Linked DNA regions of Homo sapiens. The protein of the gene in region 1 purifies or fractionates together with the protein of each later gene. This does not show direct contact. Each region holds a gene or a part of one and is shown in the gene's direction. Other genes may lie near its edges.

Region 1 (7,283 bases):
GTGAAAATGTGGTCAGAATGAAGGAAACCAAAGGAATGATACACTAATCATAGTTTGAGAGCCCTCACCACCCCTAGACCTCAAGGAAAAAGGTAGGAGTGGACCACAAGGTCTTGTACCAAGGAAGTGCTGCTTGTAGTGGACCAAGTGGGAATGACTCTTCTGCACCGTCCAGTTTCTTATTCTTCATTGGCAAAACTGAGATAAAAGCCAGAGAGCAAGGAAGCCCATTGATGCAGCCCATACAGATCAGCCTTCTGAAGTACAAAGACAGGTGGAAAAGGGTGAAAATTGTTCAGAATGAAGATACCTTGCACTGCCTATAATTTTCCTTTCTTGTAATATCGTTATCAGGTTTTGGTTGTAATCATTTGGTAAAACAAGTTGGGAAATGTTCCCTCCATTTCTGGAAGAATGTGTCTAAAATTAATGTTAGTTCTTTAAATGTTTAGAAGATCACTCATTGAACTATCTTTTCCTCTGATTTTCTTTGTGGGTTGTCAATTTTTTTTTTTTTTTTTTTTTTTTTTTGAGATGGAATCTTCTCTGTTGCCCAGTCTGGAGTGCAATGGTGCCATCTTGGCTCACTGCAAACTCCACCTCCTGGGTTCGAGCGATTTTCCTGCCTCAGCCTCCCAAGTAGCTGGGATTACAGGCACCCGTGCCATGCCTGCCTAACTTTTGTATTTTTAGTAGAAACACAGTTTCACCATGTTGGCCAGGCCAGGTTGGTCTCGAACTCGTGAGCTCAAGTGATCTGCCTGCCTCAGCCTCCCAAAGTGCTGGGATTATAGGTGTGAACCACCACGCCTGGCCTGTGGGTAGTCAATTTTTAAAAACTTTTTGTTATGGAAATTTTCAGAAACACACAAAGATAGACTAATACAGTGCTTACTATACAATGTGTGGTCCATGGAACCAGCAGCGTCAACATCATCTAGAAGCCTGTTAGAAATGCAGACTCTTATCCCCACCCCATATTTACTGAATGAGAATTACTTTTTAACAAGATCCCCAGAAGATGAGCATGCACATTAACATTTGAGAAGCACTGTTGGGGTGTGGTGGTTTGGGTTTGGGTTTTGGTCTGCTCATTCCATCAGTCACTGAGAAAGATGAGTTAAAAATCTCTCACCTTAATTGTGGATTGATTATTTCTACTTTTATTTCTGCAAATTTTACTTTTTGAGACCATGTTATTGGGTATAAATGTAAAATTGTTATGTCTTCCTGGTGAATTGAAACTCATATCACTATGGAGCAACCTTTCTATTTGCTTTTTTTCTTTACAGTCTACTTTGCTGACATTAACATTCTTGTATTAATGTGGTCAAGGACAATCTGTCTAGATTGATAATCTTTGTCCTTTATATGGAGAATTTAATCTATTTGCATTTCATGTCACAATTGGTATACAGTATTTGGGTTTAAATCTACCATCTCACTCCTCTTTCTATGTGTCCCACTTATTCTGTCTTCCTTTTCTCTCTTGCTTTCTTTTGCATTGAATCATTATTCCATTTTTTAGCCTCTGTTAAATTGTTTTTATATACTCTTTTACTGATCATTAAATGGTTACCCTAAGTGTTAAAACCTGAATCTTTGTCTTATTAAAGTCTAATGTAAGTTAATACTTTTATTGCTTCCTGGACAATTAGCACCTTAGCATGATTTAACTCCATCTATCCCTCTTGACTTATGTTCTGTTATTGGATATTTTTATTTTCTCTAAATTTCAAATATATTGCAAGATTATTTATAGCCAATACTCAGCTGGATTTATTCAATTAATTACTCTTTCATTGTTTTTCATTCCTTCTTCTATCCCCATTCTTCCATCTGAGATCATTTGCCTTGTGCCTGAAGAATATACTTCTCTTAGTATCAGTTGATAAAGAATTTTCTCAGTTTTTCTTTGTCAGAAAATTATTTTACTTTCACTTTTGAAAGATATTTTTCTATATTGAATTTTAGATGAGCAGTTATTTTCTTTCAGCCCATTGAAAATATCATTCCCTTGTCTTTTGGCTTACATTTGTATCTCTTATTGCTACTCCTTTGAAAGTATTGTGTTTTCTTCCTCTAGCTTCTTTTAAGGTTTTTTTTTGTAAGTTTTGGAATGTTCCCAGTTATCTCTTAGATATTGCTTCTATTCCATTCTGCCTCTTCTCTTTAGTCTTTTTTTTTACTGTATCTTGTAGGTCTCTTAATCTCCTTTGTGCTTTACATTATGTGTTTGGGGAGTGGTGACTGTGCTTCATTCTGGATATTTTCTTATTCAGCATTCTCTCTTCAGCCATTTCTACTATGCTTTTATGTCTCCCCATTAGTTCTTACTTTTAAATACCGTATTTTTCTATTCTAGGGTTTTCATTTTGTTATTTTATGTAGTTTCCAATTATCTGTCAAAAATTTTCAACCTCATAATTTTTCTTTGAATATATTAAACATGTATTTTAAATAATGCTGATAACTTCATTATTTAGATTCCCTGAGGATTGATCTCTGTAGGCTGTTTCAGATTTTTATCATATTGTCGTGTTTTATTATATGCCAAACATTGTATATTAAAAATTACAGAGATAACTGGAGACTCAGGATGATGTTATCTTCCTCTAGAATAGATTTATATTTGCTTCTGACATGATTTGTAGCAGTTCCATGTCACTGTAATGTAATCAGAGATTAAGATGATTTCAAGGTGGGATTCACTCCCTGAAAGAACTAGTCTATTTCCTATTCTTACTGTTATTCCTAGAGTATGGTCTTTCCAAGTCCTGGTCTCATACTTGGGGAAGGTTGCCCATACCCCTGCCTTCTTGAAGGATACCCTGAACTCTTTTTATTAGAAAAACTGCTCAATTTCTCAATATCTAATTAGAAAATTAGTGCTCTATCTGTAATTACCTTCTCCAGGATCTCAGACTGTAATTCTTTATAGCCTCGTTAGCTCTCTGATGCTAACAAATGTGTTTCAAACAAATGTGGATTGTTTTCCCCCAACTTTTTTCAGTTCTCAGAGAGAGAGTCGGTTTGAATTATCTTGTCTGCCATTTCTAGAATGGTTAGGGGTCAAATGACATAATGACTGAACTCCTCATAATATATTTATAGTATTTGCTAATTTTAATATTTTAATCCCCTACATTTGTACAGCACTTAGCAGTTTACAAAATCTTTTTGTTTACATTTTATTATTTAATAAAGGAGGTATTAATATCCCAATTATAAAGATGAGAAAACTGACTCTCCAAAGAGGGCAAATGACTCAAAGAAGTTCACAACAGCCTAACAACTGAGTTGATACTCAAATTTAAATCTAATTCTCAAGTCTAGTTATTTTCCTACTGTGCCACAGATACAAACTTTTGTGTTTTAATGTTTATTGTTCTGCTTATCAAAGAAAGAATGTAAACTTATGATTCTGTTTTGCTTTGTTTAAAAATGTGATTCAGCATGATTCCACCTTTCCACTGATAGACTCAAGTTCCCAGAACCAGATTAGAAAACGCATCGTACTTGAAAAGTTGAGTAAAGTGTAAGTATGTAATTGCCATTCCAGCTTTGTAGTAGTTTTAAATTAACTTGACATTTAAGCTCATAATGTGTAAGTATTATCCTCAGATTTTGAACATTTTGAAAAATAATGTGAAAAGTTCACATGGATTTCTTCACTTAAGAAATTTGGATTTTTAAGATATTTTATCCAAGAAATACAAATTTTTGTGTAGAGGACACAGAGGCACATCATAAAGAGGAAGGTTGAGATTGTGGGTTTAGAAGACCAAACTACCTTACTCCCACCTAATCAGTGAAGTCAGGGAAAAAATATCAAAGCTAGACCCATTTAAATACTGATTTGCGGTAAATGTGTCACAGCAGTTTCAGATGCAAATAAGATGTTATTACAAAGTTTTAAGGGTCTGTTAAGTCACTCTGCATGCATATCCTTAGAACCATTTCACACTCAGCAACATGAGTTTTTGTTCAACTCAACGTTGCACTTTAGCTTTAAACTTCCCGTGGTGGAAATTATTGTTCTTGTAATTAGCCCAGTCATAAATGACATTTAAAAATTGCTATCTTGGTTTTTCTTTCAAAAAGAACTTGAAGGTTTTTTTTTCCCAGAGGTATGAGGGCTGTGTTGAACTTTTCAACCTGCATTTTCTTATTTTAGCAGAAAACATGGAAAAGTGTGTCAGTCATTATTTAAGGGTTGTGAATATGAAGTTTTATTTTGTAGCAGTTTGAAAATACAGAAAACATTTCACATTAACCAAGGCATAAAGAAGAGTGAAGACAAAACTAATTATGGTATAGGAGTTTTTTGTTGTTTGTTTATGAAAGCTGTTGGGTTTTTTTCTCATTATCAAAGTTAGACCTTTTTTGGTTTTTTATTTGAACCAACCAATTGTAAAAAGTGTTTATTTCAGAGTATCAGAGGAAATAAAATATGTTGTATATTAGATGACACTAAGGAATTGTTAATTTGGATGGTTATGATCATTTTATTGTGATTATATAAGAAAGTGCCTTTGTATTTAGAGATAAAAATGGAAACAGTTAGGGGTCAAATGACATGACGACAGGGATTTACTTTAAAATATTACTACAAAATAAGAAAAAAATGTGCCAGGTGTGGTGGCTCATGCCTGTAATCCCAGAACTTTGGGAGGCTGAGGCAAGGGGATCACCTGAAGCCAGGAGTTCAAGACCAGCCTGGGCAGCATAGTAAGACCACATCTCTACAAAAATAAAAATAAAAATTCGGCCGAGTGCAGTGGCTCACACCTGTAATCCCAGCACTTTGGGAGTCTGAGGCAGGCAGATCACAAGGTCAGGAGATCAAGACCATCCTGGCTAACACGGTGAAACCCCATCTCTACTAAAAATACAAAAAAAATTAGCCGGGCGTGGTGGCGGATGCCTGTAGTCCCAGTTACTCAGGAGGCTGAGGCAGGAGAATGGCCCGAACCCAGGAGGCGGAGCTTGCAGTGAGCCAAGATCGCACCACTGCACTCCAGCCTGAGCAACAGAGTGAGACTCCATCTCAAAAAAATAAATAAAAATAAAAATTAATCGGGTGTTGTGGGGCTACTACTCAGGAGGCTGAAGTGGAGGATCGCTTGAGCACGAGAGTTTGAGTCTGCAGTGAGCTATGATTATGCTCGTGATTAAACTGTTCTCCATAGTGGGTGTACTAATTTACATTCCCACCAACACTGTATGAGGGTTCCCTTTTCTCCACATTTCTCACCAGCATTTGTTATTGCCTGACATTTGGATTATGCCACTGCACTCCAGCCTGGGTGCTGAAGGGAATGAAAAATGAAGCAAAGGTAGCAAAAATTAAGAAATTGAATCTGGAAATAGATATACGGGATTATTACTATTCTTTCTATTTTGGAACATGTGTGAAACTTTTTATACTATCACACTGGTCTTAAAAAGAAGCTTAAAAAAATAAAGTAACACATACTTTAGAAAATGAGGCAGTACAAAATGGTTTAAAGAAGGAAGTAAAAATTACCTGTAATCCCACCACTCAACAATAACTACTATTAATATTTTGATGTATATCCCTGACATATATATGGCATATGTATATTCATTCTATTTGGTTCTCTCTGTGGATAAACCTAGAAGGAATGAAATATGCTTGATATATATGAAGTACAATGGTATTATATAATACATGTTTTTATAAAAATAGGATAATACTATGTACATTTTTCACTTCACATCTATCATGAATATCTTTTTATATTAAAAAATAGATTCACATTATTTTAAATGTCTTATTCTATTAAATGGGTATAGCATAATTTATCTAACCAATCACCTATTGATACACATTTGTTTCTGATTTTTCACTACTAAAGCTATTTCTGCAACAAGCATATTTTTTATGTTCATCTGATTATTTCCTTAGATTAAATTTTTTTCATAGTAAAACTGTTGGGTCAAACACATTTAAACTGTTAATATATATTGTCAAATTGCTTCCTAAAAAGGTACTAATTTTCACTCCCACCATGGGGATTTAGTAAGGAAGAATATACCACACTCTCAGATTGGACCATTTTGGGGGCAGTTGTGTTCTTTCCATCTTGGTCTAATATTTGAAAATAAACAGGTAAGTAAAACTAGGGACAAGAATTTAAATAGCTGCCAAAATGATTTTGTGTTTCAGTGCTTCACACTCAGTAACAGACTACAAAGTGGAGTGTGGGGTTACTATGAATGTTTCCTTATGAGTTCTCACCAATCATAACCTAGGTTAACCTTTAAATCATGACTGCTTCCATCTAAATGCCATTATTAGCTATGGAAAATTCAGATCTAGGCATGACCCAAAAAAAGTTTCCATATAATTTTGTTTTAAAATAAATGTAATTTTTAAATTTTCAGGTTGCCTGGGCTTCTGGTTCCTCTTCAGATTACATTGGGAGATATTTACACACAACTTAAAAATCTTGTTCGAACTTTCAGGTTAGTGTTTATATTACAATTATCCTTCTCAATTATTTTGACTTTATTTATTGCCTTGCAGAATCCAAAGGCACAGAGAAAGTAAGTGACTTACCTTTCAATGTCACAGATCTAAATACAGTATTCTATTTTCTCCTCCACTAAACAACATTATTTCTCTCTTCTATTGAATGCAACCTTTATTTGCTCAAGCCATTATATATTTCACTTTGGATAGTTTATTTACGGAATAGCCTAAAATTGAGAAGGAAAATTATATCTATGATGCAAAGCCAGTAATACTATGGGTTTAAGTGAAATAGTAAATATATATTGGCTGACCCACACTGCACCAGGCACTATGGGTAATGTAAAAGAAACATAGTGCCACCCTAAAGGAAGAACTCTCCTCTGTGAAGATCATGTGAGTACAGTAAACAGTACAAGACAGTGGGCAATTTAATATTGAATTACACAGAACAGACTTAAAGTGCTAAGAACTATAAAGAAAGGGAGAATAGAGAATTGATATCAATTGTGAGTGAAACTGTTGTGATTTTTCCTAAAACTATCAAGATAAAAATACTCACTCAGGCTAAGACTAGGTTCTCTCTACCAAGAAGCATAGCAATAAGCCTCTAAATGGCTTATTAGTAGAGGTGTACCAAATACACATTTCAGCCAAATGCCAGTGACCAAATATTAAAATTAACATTTGCCTGTGGCTGATGTTGCACTGACACAGAATAAACTTCTAGGGTGGAAGAATTAATTCATCCAAGAAATTTATCATATATATTTATTATTATAGT
Region 2 (7,202 bases), on another chromosome or scaffold:
CTGGGTAATTTGTAAAGAAAGGAGGTTTATTTGGCTCGCAGTTCTGTGGGCCATACAAGCATGTGGCACCAACACCTGCTCGGTTTCTGGTGAGGCCTCAGGAAGCTTCCAATCATGGTGGAAGGCAAATGGGGAGCTGCACGTCACATGGCAAGTGGAAGTAAGAGCTAGGGAGCAAGAGAGGAAGGAGGAGGTGCCAGGCTCTTTTAAACAACCAGCTTTCATGTGAACTCATTACTGCAGAAGAGCAGCAAACCATTCATGAGGGATCCGCCCCCAAGACCCAAACACCTCCCACTAGGCCCCACTTCCAACATTAGGGATCACGTTTCAACATGAGATTTTGAGGGAACAATATCCAAACCATGTTAGTGGCCCTCTATTGACTCCAACATCTATGAACAGGGCTGGTGCTTGCCTTGGTCAACTCTTGTCTCCCATTCCCAGTGGGGGGCCTGGCACATGAAGAAGGGATTAACCAATAATAAGTAATAAAGTAATAAGGTAATAAAATAATATTTACTTTTTTTTTTTGAGACAGAGTCTCACTCTGTCACCCAGGCTGGAGTGCAGTGGCACCATCTCGGCTCACTGCAAGCTCTGCCTCCCGGGTTCATGCCATTCTCCTGCCTCAGCCTCCTGAGTAGCTGGGACTACAGGTGACTGCCACCACACCTGGCTAATTTTTTGTGTTTTTAGTAGAGATGGGGTTTCACCATGTTAGCCAGGATGATCTCGATCTCCTGACCTCAGGATCTGCCCACCTCAGCCTCCCAAAGTGCTGGGATTACAGACATGAGCCACTGTGCCTGGCCTACCATTTTTTTTTTTTTCTGAGAGGAGTTTCACTCTTGTTGCCCAGGCTGGGGTGCAATGGCATGATCTCGGCTCACTGCAACCTCCACTTCCAGGGTTCAAGTGATTCTCCTGCCTCAGCCTCCCCAGTAGCTGGGATTACAGGCATGCACCACCACACCTGGCTAATTTTGTATTTTTAGTAGAGGTGGGGTTTATCCATGTTGGTCAGGCTGGTCTTGAACTCCCGACCTGAGGTGATTTGCCTGCCTTGGCCTCCCAAAGTGCTGGGATTACAGGCGTGAGCCACTGCGCCTTGCCAATTTTTTTTTTTTTTTAGACGAAGTGTCATTCTGTTGCCCAGGCAGGAGTGCAGTGGCATGATCTCTGCTCACTGCAACCTCTGCCTCCCAGGTTCAAGCGATTCTCCTACCTCAGCCTCCCGAGTAGCTGGGATTACAGGTGTGTGCCACCACGGCGGCTAATTTTTGTATTTTTAGTAGAGATGGGGTTTCATCATGTTGGCCAGGCTGGTCTCAAACTCCTGACCTCAAATGATCCGCCTGCCTCCACCTCCCAAAGTGCTGGGATTACAGGCATGAGCCACTGCGCCCGGCCAAAGCTGATCATTTGAAAGTGTGATAAGTGCTACAAAGAAAATTTAAAAAGTGAGGTGAGGGCAGATGCCTAGAGGAGAGGGGAGGGGCTTTTGTGGACAGGAGATCAAGAAAGCCCTGTTATTATTTGAACTGAGGCCTGAGTAATGGCAAGGAGGCAACCATGGAAAGATATGGGAGAAATATTGCAGGCAGAGAGATCAGCAGGTGCAAAGGCCCTGAGGCAGGAACTAGTCTGGAGTATCTGAAGAAGAGAGAAATTGTTGTGGTTGGCTTGAGTGGTAGGGGGCTTGGTTGGAGGTGGGGAAGGTGGGTCCGACAATGCTGAATTCTAGTAGGATGTCTGGATTTGATTCTGGTTGCTGTGGGAAGCCATGGAGGGCCCTAGAAGGGAGACTGACATGACCTGATCCCCTTTGAAAAGCTCACCCAGACTGCTGAGTGGATAATAGTTTAGAGGTGTGCGAATTGGATGTCTTTGGCTGCTCATGATAGAAAATTGTCCTGGTCATTTAGAAAATTTACTGGCCTTTTAAACGGGAAGTTCAGAAGTGATGCAGACTCCAGAGCTGGTTGATTCAGCCCTGGATCAAGTTCTGTGATGCTGTCAAGGATTGGGTTCTGTTCTCAGCTCTGCTGACCACAGATCGCACTTCATTCTGAGTACTGGAGTGTCTAGGTGGTCTGGGGGGCTGTCTGATACACATGGGGCTACCTGCTTTGCACTTCCTGGCCAAGGGGATAGACTGATTCCTTATGGGAGCACTTTTGAAGAATGAGGAAGAACCTTCTCAGGAGAGGCGTGGTGGCTCTTGCCTGTAATCCCAGCACTTTAGGAGGCCAAGGCGGGTGGATCACTTGAGGCCAGGAGTTTGAGACCAGCCTGGCCAACATGGTGAAACCCTGTTTCTACTAAAAATACAAAAATTAGCCAGGTGTGGTGGCACGCGCCTGTAGTCCCAGCTACTCAGGAGGCTGAGGCAGGAGAATCGCTTGAACCCAAGAGGCAGAGGGTGCAGTGAGCCAAGATGGCACCATTGCACTCCAGCCTGGGCAACAGAGGAAAAAAAAAAGAACCTTCCCAGAAGCCTCCAGGAAGTCTCTGTTTGGACGACATCGCACACCCATTCTTGAACCAACTATTTAGAAGGGAGATGCATCACCCCCTTTGCCTGGAGCTAGGGGGTGGGTCAGCTTCCTACAGGCACAGGACTATGTGGTCGCGGGTTAAGCCCCTAAACGAGGGGAAGTGGGGTGGGCAGCAGCCGATCTCCATTACAAGGGACAAGAGTAGGGGCAGCAAGGCCAGATCAATGGTTGCTGAGGTGGCTGGGGATGGAGAGAGGATGGTGGTGGTAGAAGAGATGGTAACAATGGTCAGGTCCTGGCTGTTCCAGAGGTGATGATGGTTGGATATGCAGTGAGGAAAAGACAGGAATGAACATTTATCTTTTCCCAAGTTGTCCTTGCTTTCTTCCTTTGAAGCCATAAAAAGGAAAAAAAGGGTGGATCTGGACTTGGGAGCTGGGCAGGAGTGAGGGAAGAGAAGCAGAGCAAGCAGGCACACCAGGCTGTGACTCTGCAGGCATCTCTCTGCCTAGACTTGTCTGTATGATGTGGAACGAACACGACCCATCTTTACTGCTAGCGACTGCAGCAGATAAGGCAAGGCCACTTTCACGCAGTTAGGTTAATAGGAGGCTGTACAAAGGGCTGTAGGAGGAAGTGGGCACAGGAGTTCTAAAATAATTGGAACGGCCAGGTGTGGTAGCTCACACCTGTAATCCTAGCACTTCAGGGAATCCAAGACAGGAGGTTAGCTAAGACAGGAGGCTCGCTTAATGTCAAGACCAGCCTGGGCAACATAGGGAGACCCCGCCTCTACAAAAAATAGAAAAATTAACAGGATGTGTTGGTGCGGGCCAGTGGTCCCAGCTACTCCTGAGGCTGAGGTGGGAAGATCGCTTGAGTCTAGGAGTTTGAGGCTGCAGTGAGAAATGATGGCACTACTGCACTCCAGCCCGGGCGACAGACCAAGACTCAGTCTCTTAAAAAAAAAAAAAAAAAAAAGAAAAGTGGGGGCAAAGTTATCCTTGGAAAATTTCTTAGTCCATTCATAGCAGCATATTAAAATTAGTACAGTAGCTTAATTTATATAAGAGAAAATACAATGTGTACAGTAATTAATGAACATGCAAAATATAATTGTATATTTCAACTCACTAAAAAGGCACAGAAAGAGTTGAATTTGCTAAAATTAAATGTGCTTATGAAACAGCTCTAGTACATGAATTAAGCTCCTAGATACAGATGCAGCGCCAAACGACGGGGAGGGAGATGGGGCACTCAAGGCGACACGCGGCTCTTGTTGCCGAGCGTTTCCTGGGCGTGGAGCTTCTATAGAATGTAAGCTTTTTTTTTTTAAGGTTCCAAAGCCTATATTTAGTGCTTTCATATACGTAATCTCAAAAAAAAAAAAAGAAAGAAATATCGGCATAAAATGTAAGCTTCCAGAGGGATACAAACGCAGCCCAGCGCGGACACCGCCAGCCCCAGCCACGCGGTTCGCATCAAGCGCACTCCCCTGGGGGCGGGGCCTGCGCGAGCTGGGCGTGTCGGGGGCGGGGCCTGCGCGCTTGCTTCCGGCGTGCCGCGAGAGGCGGGGCGTGTGGGGAGGCGCGGCCGCCACGCGACGCCTGGCTGGGCCCGCACCGGAGAGGCGTCTCGGTACCTGGCAGGCGGCCTGCTACTCGGAGCCCGCTGCGGGGCGGCGGCGGCGGGGACATGCACGTGTGAGATGCGGCAGCGGGCGGCGCGGACGCGAACAGCAGCGGCGGCGGCGGGCGCGGCCTCCTGGGCGCGGGGCGCGCGGTGCCTGAGGGCGGGCGCGCGGGCGCTGGGCAACTGCCGGCCGCGCCGCCTGCGCAGGCGCTGGTTCAGGACTCACACGCCGCGCTGAGGCCCGCGGGCCCGTCATGGAGGCGCCCACCGTGGAGACGCCCCCCGACCCCTCGCCCCCTTCGGCCCCGGCCCCTGCCCTGGTTCCGTTGCGCGCCCCGGATGTGGCGCGGCTGCGCGAGGAGCAGGAAAAGGTAACTAGCAGCCCCGCGCCGCTTCCGCCTCCGCCCGCCGGGCTGCCCCTGCCTGTGCTCTGGGCCGCCGCCCCGCGTGGCCTAGGCCCAGCTGCCCGGGCCCCCGGAGGGAACGGGGATAAACTTTTGTCACGTGCTTCTGTTGTCTTTGTCTGCAGCCCTTTGACTTCGCAGCGGAGTGAGGGGTGTGCAGCCCGTTCGCCTGCCCAGGAAAGGGGGCTTCTGAGCTGAAGGCGTGCGGCAGCGCGTGGGAATTTGGGGGCGGGGGCAGCACGCTGTCAACGGAAGCGTTCGCCTTAATATTTGTAGCTTGTAATGACCTAAACATTGCTTAAAATGTGTACTGTTTGTTGCTCTTTGATTGCACGGAAAAGTTTTACCGCGTTTGTCATGATAATGCTTCCTGTGCAATATTTGGTTATTTAATATTTGTCACAATATAATGCCATTTAAACATTAAAAAAAAAAGAGAGTCTCACTATGTTGCCCAGGCTAATCTCGAACTTCTGGCCTCAAGCGATCCTCCCCCTCCTACCCTTCCCCACCTCGCCTCCCAAAGTGTTGGGATTATAGGCCTGAGTCACCGCACCCGGCTCATTTTTACAAATTTTAATTTCATCGTATAATAAATGAGTTTTAAACTACTGGTGAAAAGGGTACAAAGTTTTGTGTTTCCTAGTGGGACTTTATATAAAGAAGTATTCCCAATTTAAGAAATAGTTTTATTGTTAAATCTGATTTTTCTGTGGATTCTGTGGTCTTTCAGATTGATTCTGTCCCCTCAAGTGTCTTGAAATTGTTACTTTGAAAAGCAGTATTTAATTTGCTTAAAATATTTTATGTCATGTTTGGAAGAGCATGGATTATAAAGGGTTAGGAAGTTGCTTCAACACTATAAGCAGTTTAAAAGTTCTTAACTTTTTAATTGAACATTCCTGTATAAGAACGACTGTTTACATAGATACAAAAATATACTCAGTTCTACTAGATGGGGGTTTTGATAGAACTTAAAAAACCCTCGTTTGCTTGGAAACCACCTGTTGGGATGAACTGCGGGAATCTTTCTTTGTTCTGGTTGGTTTAAATTATTTTGTGGGTTGGATTTTCATTTCTCAGCCATTTTTCTCTAATAACGCAACTGTTAGGTTTGGAAGCCATGTTTTCAAGATGAAGGTTTAAAAATCCAGTGGCTAGGGTGGTGACTCAAACCTGTAATCCCAGCTGCTTGGGATGTCAAGGTCGTGGAATTGCTTGAAGCCAAGGAGTTCGAGATCAGCCTGGGCAACACAGGGAGACCTCCGTCTATACAAAAAAATACAAAAAATTAGCCGGGCCATGGTGGTGCACGCTTGTAGTCCCACGTACTTGGGAGGCTGAGGTGAGAGGATCACTTGAGCTCAGGCGTTTGAGGCTGCAGTGGGCCATGGTCATGCAACTGCACTTCACCCTGGGCGACAGAGTGAGACCCTGTCATTCATATATATATATATATATATATATATATATATATATATATATATATATATATAAAACTTAACTAGTTTGGCGTCTTTAAATTAGAAGACATTAATGTATTTTTTTAAAAGAGAAAGATAGAAAAAGAAGAAAGAAAAAACAGCCCCTCATGAAATCTTACTCCTTTTGCCAAAACTTGGCATTTTTTATTCTTTCAGAGAATGTGACACAGACCCTCAGAGGATGGTGTTTCTATTGCCTTTCCTCTGCTGCAGTGGGTTAATTTCACCTCCTTCAGTGTATAATACGTGCATAATGCTGACTTGATATGTTTTCTGCCATTTGGCATATTAAAAAGATATCCTTAGTTTTATTCTGATGTTAGTGTGACTGAAATGCAAAGGATACTTTTTGGGGTGCTCTGAACAGCTTTCTGGTATCGTGTTGAGTTACATTGGAAGAGAGAGTAACTGCTTTTTCAGTTACAGTCTTGTGGCAAACTGAATGACTGTTTTCTGTAGACATTGACTGTGCTACCAAATTATTTTTCTGTGTTGTGTTAATGTTAATTCGGCACACAAAATAACCACGTATATCTGTCATGGGTGTGTAAAATTATCCCCAGTTCAGGAAAAAGCGCGTCAGTATTTAATCTATCTTTATTTAATAGAAGCATTTGCTTCAGTGGACAGGAGACCCACAAGGCCACAAAATAAACTGATTAGATAGCTGCACTGTAATTATAGTGTAGTACAGGAAAACTACCCAGTAAATCGGCAGTGAAAATTTTTTGTGAAGCAATTTATTTAGGCTTTAAAGCTGGCCCAGTTGTGGGAGTACAGTGAGTTCTAGTAAAGTAGAAGCGTAGTGACATCCTGAGTGTAGAAGGGGAAAATGTCATAGTAGCTTCATATGTGGCACTTAGTATTCCTTTATGAAAGATGAATCAAACATGCTTTTAAGCTCTTGGCCTTTCCCTACATGGGTTTTGTGAGACAGAGTTAAACTCTGCAGAAAATGATTTGAATGACTGTTCTCAGTTTTCCCTGAGAGGGTACCTACCTAGTTGGCTGTAGATGCAGAGAGAGAAATGAGTTCCTTACACACAGTGGGTGCCTTAGGCTTAGGGCATAATCTTCTCTGGGAGCCTTGATTGAGAGGGGCTGGTAGGTAATGTGGCTTAAATGTTGCTCATTAGTTTTGCTCTTTCTTTTTTTCCAAATTCAGCTAAGGAGTATAACAA
Region 3 (7,555 bases), on another chromosome or scaffold:
TATACTAAGTGAAAGAAGCCAGGCATAAAAGGCCACATAGTGTATATGATTCTATTTATTGAAATGTGCAGAATACAAAAATTTTTACAGATGAAATTAAATTTGTGGTTGCTTAGGGCTGGGGTGGGGAGAACACACTGAGGAGTGGGTACAGGAGTTCTATTTGGGGTGATGAAAATACTCTAGATTGCTGGGCGTGGTGCCTCACGCCTGTAATCCCAGTACTTCGGGAGGCCGAGGTGGGTGGATCGAATGAGCTCAGGAGTTCAAGACCTGCCTGGGTAACACAGTGGAACCCCATCTCTACAAAAAATACAAAACTTAGCCGGCGTGGTGGCACATGCCTATAGTCTCAGCTACTTGAGGGGGTGAGGCAGGGAGGATCGCTTGCGTTTGAGAGGTTGAGGCTGTAGTGAGCCAAGATCCTACCACTGCACTCCAGCCTGGGTGACAGCGTGAGACCCTGTCTCAAAAAAAAAAAAATTATTAAAAAAATAAAGTTAGATTGTGGTGATGTTTGTACAACTCTGTGAATATATTAAAAACTGCTGAACTGTAAACTTCAAATGTGTGGGTTTTATTGTATGTGAATTACATCTCAATAAAGCTGTTTTTTAAAAACAGATCACAGATTTAAATGTCAAACATAAAATTAAAAAACTTTAAAAATAAAACACAGGAGAACGTCTTTGGGAGCTACGGCTTGTGAAGAGTTCTTAGACACAACAACAAAAGCATGATCCAAAAAATGTTTTTAAATCAATAAACTAGACTTCAAAATTAAATGTGTTTGCTCTAACAAAGACCTTGTTAAGAGGACAAAAAGACAAACTACAGCCTGGGAGGAAATATTTGCAAACCACATATCTGACAAAGAACTCATACCTAGAATATGTAAGGAACTCTCAAAACTCAAGTTTTTTTTTTTTTTAAGCAATCCATTTGGTAAATGAGCAAAGAATGTGAAGAGACATTTCACCATAAAGGACATGTAGATGACAAATAAGCACATGGCAAGATGTTCTACATCATTAGCTATCAGGGAAATGCAGCCTCCCCTGGGCCTTAGTCATTTCTTGCTCTTCTTGGGAAAAGGCAAAGACAGAGACCTATGAGTCAGAGCTGGGGGCAGGAAGTTGGATGGAAAGGAGAGAAGATTCAAATGCAGACATAAGAGACACAGTCCATCTCACATCTTGGAGCTGGAAACAAGCTGACTGTGTCTCTCATATCTCCCAGAAGCACCAGCCTGAAAATGTGCACCCATAAGCCAGGTTAAGAGGTCGCCAGTGGAAGCCAGGGAGACCCACCTGGTTAGAGCCCCAACCTCTGTATTGGTGACAGGCATTGTACAGAGCAGGGGTTGGCAAACCTTTTCTGTAAAAGGCCAGATAGTAAATACTTTAGGATGTCCATACCATGTGGTCTCTTTGGCAACTACTCAACTCTGCCATTATAGCGTGAAAGCAGTAACAGACAATATGTAAACGCATGAGTGAGACTTGTGTTCCAAGAAAATTTTATTAATGGACACTAAAATGCAAATTTCATATAATTTTGATGTGTCACAAAATATTAGTTTTACTTTTCTAAAGCCCTTTAAAGATGTAAATAGTATTCCTAGTTTGCAGGCTATAGGAAACTGTAAAGGGTCAGCAAACCAGGGGCCATAATTTGCTGACCCCTGATATAGAGCTTAGATGAGGAGGTTCACTGTTATGCGTACCACTGTCACTCAACACTTGATTTACAATGCAGTGACCTCCTTTAAATCCATAAATTCAGCCGGGTGAGGTGGCTCATGCCTGTAATCCCAGCGCCCTGGGAGGCCGAGGTGGGCAGATCACTTGAGGCCACAAGTTCGAGACCAGCCTGGCCAACATGGTGAAACCCTGTGTCTATTAAAAATACAAAAATTAGCTAGGCGGCATGGTAGTGTGTGCCCGTAGTCCTAGCTACTCCAGAGGCTGAAGCAGAAGAATCACTTGAAACCAGGAGGCAGAGGTTGCCATGAGCAGAGATCACACCACTACACTCCAGCCTTGGCAACAAAGTGAGACTCTGTCTCAAAAAAAATCTATAAATTCTACTTCTAGGAATTTATCACAAGGAAATAATCATGGCTCCGCACAAAAATTTGACAGCAAAGACTTATCCCATCCTGGTTATAACAACGAAAATATCTGAACACATTCAAATATCCAGTGACAGAGGAGTGGCTCAAAAATCTGAGGCCATCCAAAGAATGGAATGCTATGCAGCCATGTCAACAATTATCCTATGGTCTGGAAAGAAAGCAAATGTGATCAAATATTAACAACGAGTGAATCCAGGCCGGGCATGGTGGCTCACGCCTGTAATCCCAGCACCCTGGGAGGCCGAGTTAGGCGAACTGATTGAGCTCAGGCATTCGAGACCAGCCTGGGCAACATGGTGAAACCCCATTTCTACAAAAAATTAGCTGGGCATGGTGGCTCATGCCTGTAGTCCCAGCTATGCAGGAGGCTTAGGCGGGAGGATTGCTTGAGCCCGGTGGCAGAGGTTGCAGTGAACCGAGATCACACCACTGCATTCTAGCCTAGGCAAGAGAGCAAGACCCTGCCTCTAAAAAAATTTTAAAAATTCAAAATAAAACAACTGGCGAACTTAAGTGCAGGGTATATGAGTGTTCACTGTCAACTTTTCTGTAGGTTTGAAATGTAAAAATAAAGTTGGAAATACATTTTTAAGTAAAAAATTCTTTTTTGTGAAATATAAGTTAATAGACTTACACAGACTCATCTCCAGCCCATCAGAATTGTGTTCTCTGTTAAATAAATATGTGTCTTCTTTTCTCTCTTTTCACAGGAAAGTGGTATAGATTAACTAGATAATATTTTTCTACCTAGTATCTATTCCAATCACACTCAATGTAATTTAAACTATATGTAACATGAGATTTACAGACCAAAAAAACTAATCTCAATGTTTTCATTTTACAATTATCTCGTTCTAAGGGCAAAGAAAAGCTTAACTTGGCCAGGTGTGCTGGCTCATGCCTATAATCTCGGCATTTTGGGAGGCCGAGGTGGGCAAATCACTTAAGCCTAGGAGTTTGAGACCAGCCTGGGCAACATAGTGAGACTCTGTCTCTACAAAAACTTTTTTAAAAATTAGATGGGCGTGGTGGTGTATGCCAGTAGTCCCAGGTACTCCAGAGGCTGAAGCGGGAGGATCACTTGAGCCTGGGAGGTTGAGGCTGCAATGAGTCATGATCATACCACTGCACTCCAGCCTAGGGGACACAGACCCTGTCTAAAAAAGAAAAAAAAGAAAGAAAGAGAGAGAGAGAGAAAGAAAGAGAGAGAGAGAGAAAAGAAAGGAAGGAAGGAAGGAAGGAAGGGCTTAACTTGCTTGGGTTTTGAGCATTTGAAAAAAAAAACTTGCTTTTACATATGAAACACAAATTATCTGGGAAGACTTCCTTGGTAGGGGTGGGTGCTCTAGGCTCTACAGATGGAAATAGCATTTGGGGATTCATCCCATGGTCTGGATTCTTCTCCAGGCAAAGGCCCATTCTTGCTGGGTTATAAGTTCTTGTTTGAAAATCTAACCTGAAAAATAAATTCACTCAGTCACTCTAGTGCATAAGAATAAATTCACAAAAACCTTACCATTTAAATAAAAACATGGGAACTATGCCTAACTACAAGATGGCCAATCTTCGGCAGAGGACTTCAGCCACCCTCTCCATTTGACTATCAAACGAGGTGATTAGACAGAGAGTGTTGTCAATTTCCACTTGAGCCTCACTTATGGGTTGCGAGTGCAGAGCTGGAGTTATCAAAGATGAATTTTAGAAAACCTGTCTCTGTTTAAAACCTTTTAAATGCTTATACTCAGTCCCATTGCCAGGAGTGAAATCCAAACCTCCCGTGTGAAAAATCAATATCCAGGCCGACAGATCACACGGGATCTTCCTTATAGACCAGAACCATAGTCAATTTTTAGGTCCTTTTAAATATTAAACTCTTCACTTCCTCTACCTCCACCTGTGCGTCGCGCCTACCTTAGAACCCGCCAAATCCCATTAAATCCCACCCCCACCAGCCACACACGGTCTCCATAGGCTCCAGGCGCCGCTTTTGCAGTCCCCCATTGGCCGGTTTATTGCCAGACGGCCCCTGCTCGCACGCCCTAGTCTTCTTTGATCTCCTCGGATTCCGTGAAGCCCTGCCCTTCTCTTCTCCCCTTTGGCCCGTCTTCTTCCACTCAGGCCCGCCCCTCCCCAACTGGCTATTTGGTTGGCCAGCGCGCTTGCCACTTACGTCATTCACCCGCGCCACCCGGAAGCCGCGGTTCCTACCAACCGTTCTTATTGCTGGCGGCCTGAGGTAAAGGCCGCGCTTGGGTGTCCCTGGGTGGTCGGGTCCCCGAGTTGGGAGGGGCGGAAGGCTGAACCTCCAGCTTGAGCCGGACAAGCCGATTCCCAGCGTTGAGAGGGTAGAGATGAACTGTGTGTGAGGCCAAACTGGATCGGTCAACATGGTCTTCCCCCTCCCCACTCCCCAGGAGCCCATCATGGCGACGCCCCCTAAGCGGCGGGCGGTGGAGGCCACGGGGGAGAAAGTGCTGCGCTACGAGACCTTCATCAGTGACGTGCTGCAGCGGGACTTGCGGTGAGTGACAGTGCGGGGGGCGGGGCGTTTGGAACATTCCACGTGGTGGGTGGGGCGTTCAAAGTTAGGGCCAACCCTTTGAATTGGCGGGCGAGGCGTTCAGAGTCCGGCCCCGCGCTCCTTGGAGCGAGAAGTGGGGACGACATCCGGGGTGCAGTTTGGCTGGGACGTGGCGTTCATAGCAGGGGCGTGTCAGCGCATGCGCGGCCTCCGATGTTTAACAGATTAAGGCTTGTTTTCTGGAGCCACAGTTCTCGGGTTCGAATCCTGGCTCGGCCATTCTTCATCCTTGTGAATACGTCCTACCTCGCCTTTCTGTGCCCTATAAACTTTACTCTTCTGTGAAATGGGGAGTTTTCTGGAACCTTCCCCATGCAGTGGTTTTGAGTTTTTGATGTGTCCCATCTTTGTCAAGAATTTAGCATGGATGCCTGAAACATAGTAGAGGTTCAATGAGTATGAAGAAATATTATTGCAATCTTTGTTAATCTAAGCAGGAAATAAGGTGTTCAGAACTAGGCCTATGAGCATCCTAAAAGGGATGGAGGATTTTTCTAGGGTGAGGATGGGACATTATGATTGGAGTTCAGTATTGGGAGTATAATAATAGTAATTATAACTAACATGTATATAGAGAGTTTACCATTTGATAAGCATTATTCTAGATGCTTTGTAGTAAACGCTCATTTAATCCTAATGACTCTACAAGGTAATACTGTCATCTGTATTTTATAAATGGGGAAACTGAGTCCCAAACAGGTTATTTACTTGCCAAAGTCACACATCTATAAAGGATAGAGCCCAGATCCAAACCCAGGCAGTCTGACCCAGAGCCGAAAATTAACTTATGCACTAAAAAGCCTTTTCAGTGTATGGTGACATGAGAGTCTCAGAGGGTCATGATATGAGGTATACTAGGAGGAATGGGGCTGCCTATTGGTCACCATTGTACTTTCGTCCCATCAGAAAGGTGCTGGACCATCGAGACAAGGTATATGAGCAGCTGGCCAAATACCTTCAACTGAGAAATGTCATTGAGCGACTCCAGGTAAAGACTATGGGATTGGGTACCATTTTTTTGGTATGTGTGGGCAAGGGAGGGAAATGGGAAGAGAGACTCCAGACCCAACCCTGTCACCTGACCTAAGAGTTCACCACTGACCCCTACCTCTTTTTCCCTGGCCCCACAGGAAGCTAAGCACTCGGAGTTATATATGCAGGTGGATTTGGGCTGTAACTTCTTCGTTGACACAGTGGTGTGAGTGTCTACCCGCCCCTCTGAGCCCACAGGGTTCAGCTTACCCCTTCCCTCATGCAACTTATATTTTTTTGAGTATCTTCTATGTACCAGGCACTATGCGAGGTTTTATATCCCAGTAGGATATAAGCTAGGTGCTGGGGATGTGACAGTGAATAAAATAGGACAAAATCCCTGCCTTCCCAGAGCCTCAATTTGGGGAAGGGTGGGGAGCAAAACATAAACTATGCTAAACAGTGATAAGGACTTCTCCCCACTTCCTCTAACCTCTCTTTCCTCAGCCCAGATACTTCACGCATCTATGTGGCCCTGGGATATGGTTTTTTCCTGGAGTTGACACTGGCAGAAGCTCTCAAGTTCATTGATCGTAAGAGCTCTCTCCTCACAGAGTAAGTCCATTCCATGAGGATAGTGTGTAAAAACACCACCATTTCCAACACTCTTCTCCCTTTACCCATGGCTGCCTGGAATGATACTTAAGGACTCATCTCCCCTCCTCTTCAGAGCTGGGGCTGAAGAAATGGGGTTGCAAAGCCCATGTGTAGCACATAATAAGCACTCAAAAAATGATCTTTGTATTGTTCATTCACGCAAACATTTATTGGGCATCTTCTGTATGCCAGGCACTGTGCTTAGCAGTGGGAATGCAGCAGTGAACAAGACAGAAGAGTTCCTTGAAGGCTTACAATCTAGAAGGACTATACTGTTATACATAAATACAATTATGACCAGATCCATGAGGTCTCAGCCTGTTAGAATTGGTAACAAGAAAACTAGTTACCTATGATTTCACTTCCTGCTAATTTTACTATTCATTCACTGTGTTCCTGCCACACTCACCTTCACATGCTTCTTTCAACACCCCAAGAATGATCCCACCCCAGGGATATTGCTGTAGCTGTTCTCTCTGCCTGCACTGCTCTTTCCCCCAGTACCCACATGGCTTCCTTTCTCCTCACTCACTCGTCTTGCTTAAATGTCACTTCCTCAACAAGGCCCTCTGTAACCTAACTTTCAAATTACAGCCCCTGGCATGCTTGATTCCCCTCCTTCTACTTTTTTTCTACTAACACTTATCACCCCCTAATATTTACTATGTAATTTCTTTCTCATGTTGTCTCCTCCAATTAGAATGTAAGTTTTACAAAGGGGGAGATTTGGTTTATTCCCTTATACCCAGGTGACTAGAGTAGTACAAGCATATAGTAGACACTCTGTGTTTTTGTTTTTAAGAGATGGTGTCTCGCTGTGTTGCCCAGGCTGGAATGCAGTGACTGTTTACAGCTGCGATCATAGCATACTACATCCTCAAACTCCTGGGCTCAAGCAATCCCCTTGCTTCAGCCTGCCAAGTAACTGGGACTACAGGCGCACTGCTGTACCCGGCTTTGTGTTTGTTGAAATAATTTGAAAGGGTATGCTGGAAGCATATTAAAGTGGTTATTGAAGCAGATCTGTGTTGGGGGTGATGGGGAGAGAAAATGTGGGCTCCAGTTGAGTTTAAGGCAGGAGTGTCCAATCTTTTGGTTTCCGTGGGCCACATTGGGAGATTTGTCTTGGGCCATACATAAAATACACTAATGCTAATGATAGCTGATGAGCTAAAATAAAAAAGTTGCAAAAAAAAATCACATAATGT
Region 4 (8,248 bases), on another chromosome or scaffold:
ACTTATGTGCAAGCCTTTCTATTAATATATGCTTTCATTTACCTGTTTCTCTTAGGTAAATACCTAGCAGAAGAATGGCTGGGTCAAACGGTATATTTTAAGAAACTGCCAAACTGGTTTCCAAAGAGGTTGTACTATTTTGCATTCCCATTAGCAGTGTATCAAAGTTCCAGTTGCTCTACATCCTTTACAACACTTGGAATGGTCAGTCTTTCTGGTAGGCATGTACTAATATCTCATTGTGATTTTATTATTTATTTTTTCTTGGATATAGAGTCTTGCTATGGTGCCCAGGCTGGTCTTGAACTTCTGGGCTGAAGCAATCCTTCCACCTCAGCCTCCTGAGTAGATGAGATTACAGGCATGAGCCACCATGCCCAGCTTCTCCATGTATTTTTAATTTGCATTTTCCTAATGGCTAATAACACTGGTCTTCTTTCATGTGCTTATTTTTCACTTATATATCTTCTTTGGTAAACTGTCTTTTCAAATCTTTTATTCCCTAATCTGGAAAGTGGTGCCCATCACTTCTACCATATTTATTAGAAGTGAGTCAGTTAAGTCCAGTCAACATTCCATGGGAGAGGATTACATTGGAGTGGGACACTGGGGGCCATCCTAGAGGCTGTCTACCACGTGTGGCTTCCCATTTCTTTTAGGGTAAAATCCAAACTCCATATCCTGGTCTACAAAGCCCTGCTAGATCTAGCCCCAGCCTTCCACATTGCTTTTTTTTGTTATTTGAACATGCTAAGCTCCTTCTCCTTTTACGGCCTTAGTATCTTCTCTTGCCTCTACTTGGGATGTTTTTCCATCAGATTTTCCCACAGTTGATCATTTGTCATTTGAAGTCCCAGCTTAAAAGTTACCTCCTCAGAAAACCCAACCTCAGTCACCCAATCAAAGTAGTCTACCAGTCACTCCTTATCAAATCACTCTGTACTAATTCTCTATGTGACTCTTAGTACTGATAGAATAAAAGTTTCAATGTAACAGGAAATTTCTTTACCTCATTCATCGTTATATCACCAAATCCTAGAATAGCGTTTCACTTGTGATAGACGCTCAATAAATATTTACTTACTGAACAAATGAATGAGATCTCCAAAGAAGCAAGAACAGATGGGATCCATAGTATAGCTGAAGGGATTAACCTTGGATAAAGTTCCTGTGACTACTGCTGTTTAATAAACGACCCCAAATTTAGAAAAGGCATAGTGAAGATGTCTCTGCTCCACAATGTCTGAGGCTTCAATTTGGATGTCGTGAAGGCTGGAAGTGACTGGACAGTTGGGGCTGAAATTATCCAAAGTTTTGCTCACTCACATGTCTGGTGGTTGATGCTACCTGTTGGCTGAAACTTCAGCTTGGGATGATAGCCAAAACATCTACGCAAATGCAGACTTCTTCATGGCTTGCTTGCTGAGTTCCAAGAGTAAGCACTTCAAGAAAGCTAGGTAGAAGTTGCATCACCTTTTGTCATCTAGACTAGAAAAATCACTTTTGCTCTAGTTATAAGCACGCCCAGATTCAAGGATAGAGAAGAATAACCCCATTTCTTGACAGGAGGAGTGTTAAACTCACATAGCAAGAAGAACACATTTAGGATGGGAAATATTGTTGCTGCCATTCTGGTCAACTCCAACTATATCATGGCCAGTTTTGTGGCCATTCATGCCCCAACAATGACAATCAAAGCAAGAAAACAGAGGAGAACAGCCTGGAAATTCTAAACATTTATGTTTATCAGTTTTACAATTGATTGTCAGTTTTTATCTTCAACTAGGTAAGGACAAGTGGAAATCATTCCCAGGTCTTGTTTTTGTTCAGTGTCCTTGTGTAGCTTCGTGGCAGTGGGATGTCTATAGGTCATCTTGGCAGCACCTCACGTGACTAATGAAATTTTCCTTTCCCTTAATTCTGTTTTGAATTTTCCTTCCTTTCAAACGCAGCCAAATTTATTAGTTTACTCTGAGAGCAACATTCAGGAGATTAATCCAAGTACCACTGGAAAAGTGATTCATCTTTTTAATGAGCACTGAAAAACACAAACAAAAAAACCCCAAAACACTTGCCCAGATTCATTTTTATAACGGATGGGCTCTTTGACAGGCAACTGGAATTCTTTAGCAGAGATTAGCTGTCTGTGGTTTGTGGGCTCCATTTCCTTTCAAGTGTTTGGTTCAGCTGCAAACAGGTATAACCTGTAGCACTCATTGTTTCTCTCTTTAGTCTTCATTTCTCCATTGTTAAATTTCTCCATTTTATATCTTCTTCTCTAGACACTGCTGTGAAAATTTGTGTCCTAGATATTTATTTTTTGTTTCATAAATTATAAAAGAATACTTTGCCTATTTTCCTTTTGAAGTGTAAATAGGCTGCAAGTAGTCTGCTTCTGTTGTAGAGTGATGTTTTCCACTTGCCATGCTTCCTGGTTACTGACAAAATTAGACAGTTTGTGCTTGGATGCTGGTGGGAATTTAGATCTGTATTATGATATCTTGAAGCCCTAAGCCATACTGTATAAAAGATTCTATCCCAAACCACTGAAAAATCTACACAGTAATGATGATTAATTATATAAAAAGCTTAAGATTTGCATATAAGAAACATTTCATTAAGAGAAAGAGGAATATGGGGGAAAGGTAGAGAAAAAAATATGAGAGAAGGAGATTGTGTCAATTACTACATGCTATGTTCCTGAGAGGAGACAGAAAAAGTACAATTATAGCTCCCTCACAGAAAGGACTTTACAATTTTGTTAGGAAAGGAAAAAGAAATCTCGATGCATAACACAATTAGAGAAGTATAATATGCTTCATGCAGTGAGGTTCCAACTTTAACTAAGCCCTATAATTGTGCTGAAAAGAAAGAGAAGTTTGGTTTGGAATAACATGGGAAGGTTCAGGGAGGAGGTGAGACTTCAGCCAAGACTTACAATTGGCAAGGGGAGAAGAGATAGCCTTCCACAAAAGGGTAACAGAAGGGGGCAAAATTCTGAGGCCTAAAAGAAAGGCATCCTTGCCTTGGGGACACCTGTGGCCTACAATCAGCACATGGGGAGTTCACTACTGTGGGAGAAATAAAGGCCTCCAGCTGGGGTCCAGGGGTGGGGTGAGGGAGGCTTGCGGGGTGCTTATCACTGTAAACCAAAAATAAAATTTGAAGGTCCGCCCTCAACCGTCTGAATGGACTTCCTCCTGTAGTCCAGGGTCCTCCAAATTTAACCTAAAAGACTGGCTTAGGCCATGATGGGAAGCTGAGGTCAGACATGCCTCATTATGCCCTTCTTTCTTTTAGAATCCAGGAAAAGCTACACAGCATTTAATATCAACACATATACCTTGAGTCTGATAAGAAACACAACTTACTTTCTCTGAAGCCTGCTAACTGGAGGCTTCATCTGCATGATAAAATTTCGGTCTCCACAAGTTCTTATGCTAACCTAGACATTCCTTTAAATCAATTACCAATCAGAAAAAAACTTAAATTTACCTATAACTTGGGAGCCCATCTTGCCCCACACCCGCTCTGCTTTGAGTTGTCCCACCTTTGTGGATTAAGCCAATGTTTATCTTAAATGTATTTGATTGATGTCTCATGTCTCCCTAAAATGTATAAAACCAAGCTGTGCACCAACCACCTTAGGCACGTGTTCTCAGGATCTCCTGAGGGCTGTGTCACGGGCCATGGTCACTCATATTTGGCACAGAATACATCTCTTCAACATTTTACGGAGTCTTTTTTTTTTTTTTTTGTCAGTACCACAGACAACCACCTGACTCGAGGACCTTACCTATTTCTCATTCAGCCAATGCTGCAGCACGTTATTAACGTCCTTGAAAGCAAGTCTTATACAGAGAAAACTTATTTTGATATATTAATGAATCTGATCAGAATGGACCAGATTGGGGGGATAGATAAATGGTTGCAATTGTGCTCCCTGGAATAGCTTTGGAGTTTACCTAGATCTTCTGTCTCTTTAGGACAGAGCTGCTTGTGTTTATATAGCATCTTACACAGGATTGAGACAACTTCAATTTCCTATATCAAAAAATCGGGGGAGGGCGGTGGGTTATGGGGGTGTTCAAACCTCCCAAGTGACATCTGCTGTGACTGCATGTCTTCCTACTCTTTCCACTGGGATGCACCTCTGGTAGCTGAACTATAACGAGAAGGTAAAAGCTGTGTCCAATACCTATTAAGCTGCCTTCTTCTCAACAGCTGGGGAGGTGGCGGGGGTGGGGGGGGGCGGAGGGAAGTCTTTTCAACAGTTTTACACATTTGGAAATAGGCCTAAAGTGAAGAAGGGGATTTTCAAATTGGTGTGTTGGAAAAGGGGCTGGGCTTTTGAGTTTGAAATCTGGTGCTGTCACTTACTGGTTTTGTGCCCTGGGAATATTTATTTCAGTTTTCATGCCTCTGTTTTTCTATAGGCAAAGTAGAAAATTCGAAAAGGTCCTCAACGAGTTTGTACAGCTGCTCCCACTCCCTCATCACCTCTTGTGGGCCTTTGGAAATGTATGTTGGAGGAGACATTTTGGATTGTTGCAATGACTTGGGAGTGCCATAGCACCTAGCAGGCAGAAGCCAGAAACACCAAATGTCTTAACAATGCTTGAGGCGGTGCTACAAATGAAGTCCTTCTCCAAATGCATTGAGCCCCAAGAAAAATCGCTGATTCTGAGGAACCTTCCAACTTTAACAATTTCAGGACGTCCCTAAGCTGAGCTAGGAGGCACCACGCACAGGCCGGAGGCACCACGCACAGGCCAGAGTCTCCCAAATCCTGTCCCGCACTCTCTCCCACCTTATTAATGGCCAGCTCATCTTTCAAGTTTCGACTTGAACCACTTCTCAGAGATATCTTCCCAGGTGCCCATCCCAACGTTACTATTATATCATAATTTGATTCTCCCTCCCCCCATCCCCCCGCCAACTCTGTAAACCCCAAGTATAACACAGGACGTTGCTATTTGTTGACTGACACATAGTGCTTGGTGAGGTCACGCTGGCGCTGAATACTTTTTGTATAAACCGACGAACAGCTGATGACCGCATGAATGCTCACACAAGGGGAAAGGGCGCCAAGCCAAGGAGCCGGCGTCATCCGACGTAACTTCCGCCCTTTAACGCTCCTGCGGACGCCCCCTTCTCCCAGTCCGTGTTTGTTTCCGGAATTTCAATAAAGCTCGATTCGGCTCGAAGAAGACCCCGTTCTTCCGGGAAAATGGCGACTCCCGCTCGTGCCCCGGAGTCACCGCCGTCCGCGGATCCGGCGCTAGTAGCGGGGCCTGCCGAGGAAGCCGAGTGCCCGCCGCCGCGCCAGCCTCAGCCCGCGCAGAATGTGCTCGCTGCCCCGCGGCTTCGAGCCCCAAGCTCCCGAGGACTTGGCGCAGCGGAGTTTGGTGGAGCTGCGGGAAATGTTGAAGCGCCAGGAGAGACTTTTGCGCAACGAGTAAGCTGGGGTCCCGCGGAGTCTCCGCCAGGCTCCTTCAGCTCGAGCTCCCTGGGCGCTCCCCTCCCCTCCCGCACTCTGTTCCCTTCCCTGGAAGGTGACTTTGACTCAGTCACATTCGCTTCAGTCCTACGGGCGAGTGGACGGAGGGCTTGCTGCGGCAGAGCCGTGCCTCTTCCTGGCCAGGCACGTATGCCTGCGAGGATAGCTCGGATTGAACGGCTACCTGGCGTTGCAGGGAGTTAGTAGCCCCTGGTCGGTTTTATTTACCCGGGGACTGTGGTGGTTCCATGAGTCTGCTTTCTAAACCCTTTTGTCGCCCGCACCCCTAACCCATAACAGATTGTCAGCTTCATCTCTGGATTCTAAGCTTACAGGAACCGTAGGAAATGGGAAGAGTGGGATATGAAGAGGGGTTTATTAGGCCGGGAAAGTTCGACCCTCATTCAGCTGGCTGGTTGAACGGATTTTAGCAAGGGAGCCACGTAATAAAAGTGATTTTGTTTTTTAGGCAGCTTTGTTCAGCAGCTTGTTGCAAAAGATGGTTTGAAGGAATAAAAAGCAGAAGACAGTAGAAGGATATTTTCAGAGAGACTTCCCACGAGACACTTGTAAGAAAGTGAGCTAGGAAGGGATTGGGAGAACTTTTAAGCATGGACTAATTTAAATGCAGTTGACAGAGATGGCTGAAGTTTCCAATCTATATGGAAGACCACTAGCAAAAATAGGAAAATTCAGGGAGAGGAATAGATCCAAGGTTGATTTTACTTAGGGTGTGCAGAGTTGAGAGGAGAGCAGGACAGACATTTGGTTAATCGAAAACCAAACACTTAAAAGCTGGAGAAGTAGTCATGAGGCTCAAGAAAGAGAGAACCCTGGAAAAATACAGAAAACAGGAATTTCAGCTGTAGAGTGTTGTTAATAGTTGAAATTGTGGGGATGAATGTAGTGTCAAAAAGAACAGAGGACTTAAGGTGTAATTTTTTCTTTCCATTTATTGTATAGTTAAAGAAAAGGGAATCAGAAAAGGAACTCTGTCATCCAGCAAAAGGGACAAATAAATAATTGGTTGGGATCAAGACATGTGTTTTGACCTTGTGAGAATAGGTTTTGAATGTATAGCAGTGAATTAACTTTTTGGTCTCAGGACTCCGTTATACTTTAAGAATTATTGACATCCCAAAGAGCTATTTTATGTGTTGTATCTAGCGAAATGTATTTACTTATCAGAAATACGTCTGAAGTCTTTAAAACATAAGCATACACAAGCACACATTCTATTCTAGAACAATGATGTCATCACATGCCATGTAGCCTCTGGAAAACTCCACTGTACCCATGCGAGAAAATGAGAGGGAAATAATATCTTAGTATTATTATGAAAGTAGTTTTGACCTAATAGGCCCATCCCCACACTCCACCCCATCCCCAAATTTTGGAGATTGCACTTTAATGACTGCTGGTTCTTGGAATGTCTTATGTGATTATTATATGCTTAAAATACTTTTGCTGAAATTCTAATTTGCTGAGACAAATGAGGCATATATTCCCTATTCTTCCTGCATTCCCTTGTTTTTTGGGCTATTTGGATAATGACCATTTTAATTGTTTTATTCTTGTTTTGGGGCAGTTAGAAATCAGATATTTGACTTAAAAATCAGCTTTTCTTTCTTTGAAGATAATGCCTTGCCTTTTTAATGTTATATCTCAAGTTAAAAAAATGGCTGTAATGTAATAGTATTCTTTTCCATTTGACAGAAAATTCATTTGCAAATTGCCCGACAAAGGTAAAAAGATCTTTGACTCTTTTGCCAAACTGAAAGCTGCCATTGCAGAATGTGAAGAAGTTAGAAGAAAAAGTGAACTGTTTAACCCTGTTAGTTTAGACTGTAAGCTAAGGCAAAAAGCAATTGCAGAAGTTGATGTGGGTACAGATAAGGCCCAGAATTCTGACCCGATACTTGATACTTCATCACTAGTTCCTGGATGTTCCTCTGTAGATAACATCAAGTCATCTCAAACCTCACAAAACCAGGGACTTGGACGTCCTACTCTTGAAGGTGATGAAGAGACTTCAGAGGTTGAGTACACAGTGAATAAGGGCCCAGCTTCCAGCAATAGAGACAGGGTACCACCTTCATCTGAAGCTAGTGAGCATCACCCGCGGCATCGTGTTTCAAGTCAAGCGGAAGATACTTCCAGCAGCTTTGACAACCTGTTTATTGACAGGTTACAGAGGATCACCATTGCGGACCAAGGTGAACAACAGTCAGAAGAAAACGCAAGTACTAAGAACTTGACAGGCCTTTCCAGTGGGACTGAGAAGAAACCTCATTACATGGAAGTGCTAGAAATGCGAGCCAAAAACCCAGTGCCCCAGCTGCGTAAATTTAAAACCAATGTGTAAGTACCCTCGGAAACAGGCCTGTAACAGGAACGTGATATTTGTTAAACTCAAAAATTTACGAGAAACTGGGTGTGGTGGTGCTTGCCTGTAGTCCCAGGCTACTCAGGAGGCTGAGGTGGGAAGACAGCTTTGAGTCCAGGAGTTGTAGACCAGCTTGGGCAATATAATAAGACCTTTTCTCTTAAATAAGTCAGGAGAATGCTCTAAGTTCCGTGGGCTTTGTATGAGAACTACTTGTAGTTAGGAAATAACATGTTGTGGCAACACTGAGACCAGCCTGGCCGGAGTAGAAGATTCATGTTGAAAAATATTTAGTTTTGAAACCAAATAATCGACAAGGTCTTTTAAAGCACATGGGGGAGTGTTAAATTTTAGGATGCTTA

The links.
Region 2: the proteins of RPAP2 (region 1) and URI1 purify together in Homo sapiens (affinity purification with mass spectrometry; 4 studies listed by BioGRID and IntAct, with this or other methods). This does not show direct contact.
Region 3: the proteins of RPAP2 (region 1) and UXT purify together in Homo sapiens (affinity purification with mass spectrometry; 5 studies listed by BioGRID and IntAct, with this or other methods). This does not show direct contact.
Region 4: the proteins of RPAP2 (region 1) and POLR2M purify together in Homo sapiens (affinity purification with mass spectrometry; 5 studies listed by BioGRID and IntAct, with this or other methods). This does not show direct contact.

The regions. Positions count from the first base shown.
Region 1 is NC_000001.11:92,329,936-92,337,218, forward strand, and holds part of RPAP2 (putative RNA polymerase II subunit B1 CTD phosphatase RPAP2), read left to right. Parts: intron 1-3,455; coding exon 3,456-3,538; intron 3,539-6,411; coding exon 6,412-6,492; intron 6,493-7,283.
Region 2 is NC_000019.10:29,938,161-29,945,362, forward strand, and holds the start of URI1 (unconventional prefoldin RPB5 interactor 1), read left to right. Parts: upstream 1-4,078; 5' UTR 4,079-4,387; coding exon 4,388-4,504; intron 4,505-7,202. UniProt on the Homo sapiens protein: Involved in gene transcription regulation. Acts as a transcriptional repressor in concert with the corepressor UXT to regulate androgen receptor (AR) transcription.
Region 3 is NC_000023.11:47,655,933-47,663,487, reverse strand, and holds the start of UXT (protein UXT), read left to right. Parts: upstream 1-4,307; 5' UTR 4,308-4,373; exon of another isoform or gene 4,374-4,524; coding exon of another isoform or gene 4,525-4,560; coding exon 4,561-4,658; intron 4,659-5,624; coding exon 5,625-5,706; intron 5,707-5,848; coding exon 5,849-5,916; intron 5,917-6,197; coding exon 6,198-6,305; intron 6,306-7,555. UniProt on the Homo sapiens protein: Involved in gene transcription regulation. Acts in concert with the corepressor URI1 to regulate androgen receptor AR-mediated transcription. Together with URI1, associates with chromatin to the NKX3-1 promoter region.
Region 4 is NC_000015.10:57,701,498-57,709,745, forward strand, and holds the start of POLR2M (protein GRINL1A), read left to right. Parts: upstream 1-5,216; 5' UTR 5,217-5,345; coding exon 5,346-5,458; intron 5,459-7,216; coding exon 7,217-7,861; intron 7,862-8,248. Other genes in the region: GCOM1 (GRINL1A combined protein), read left to right, coding at 7,217-7,861.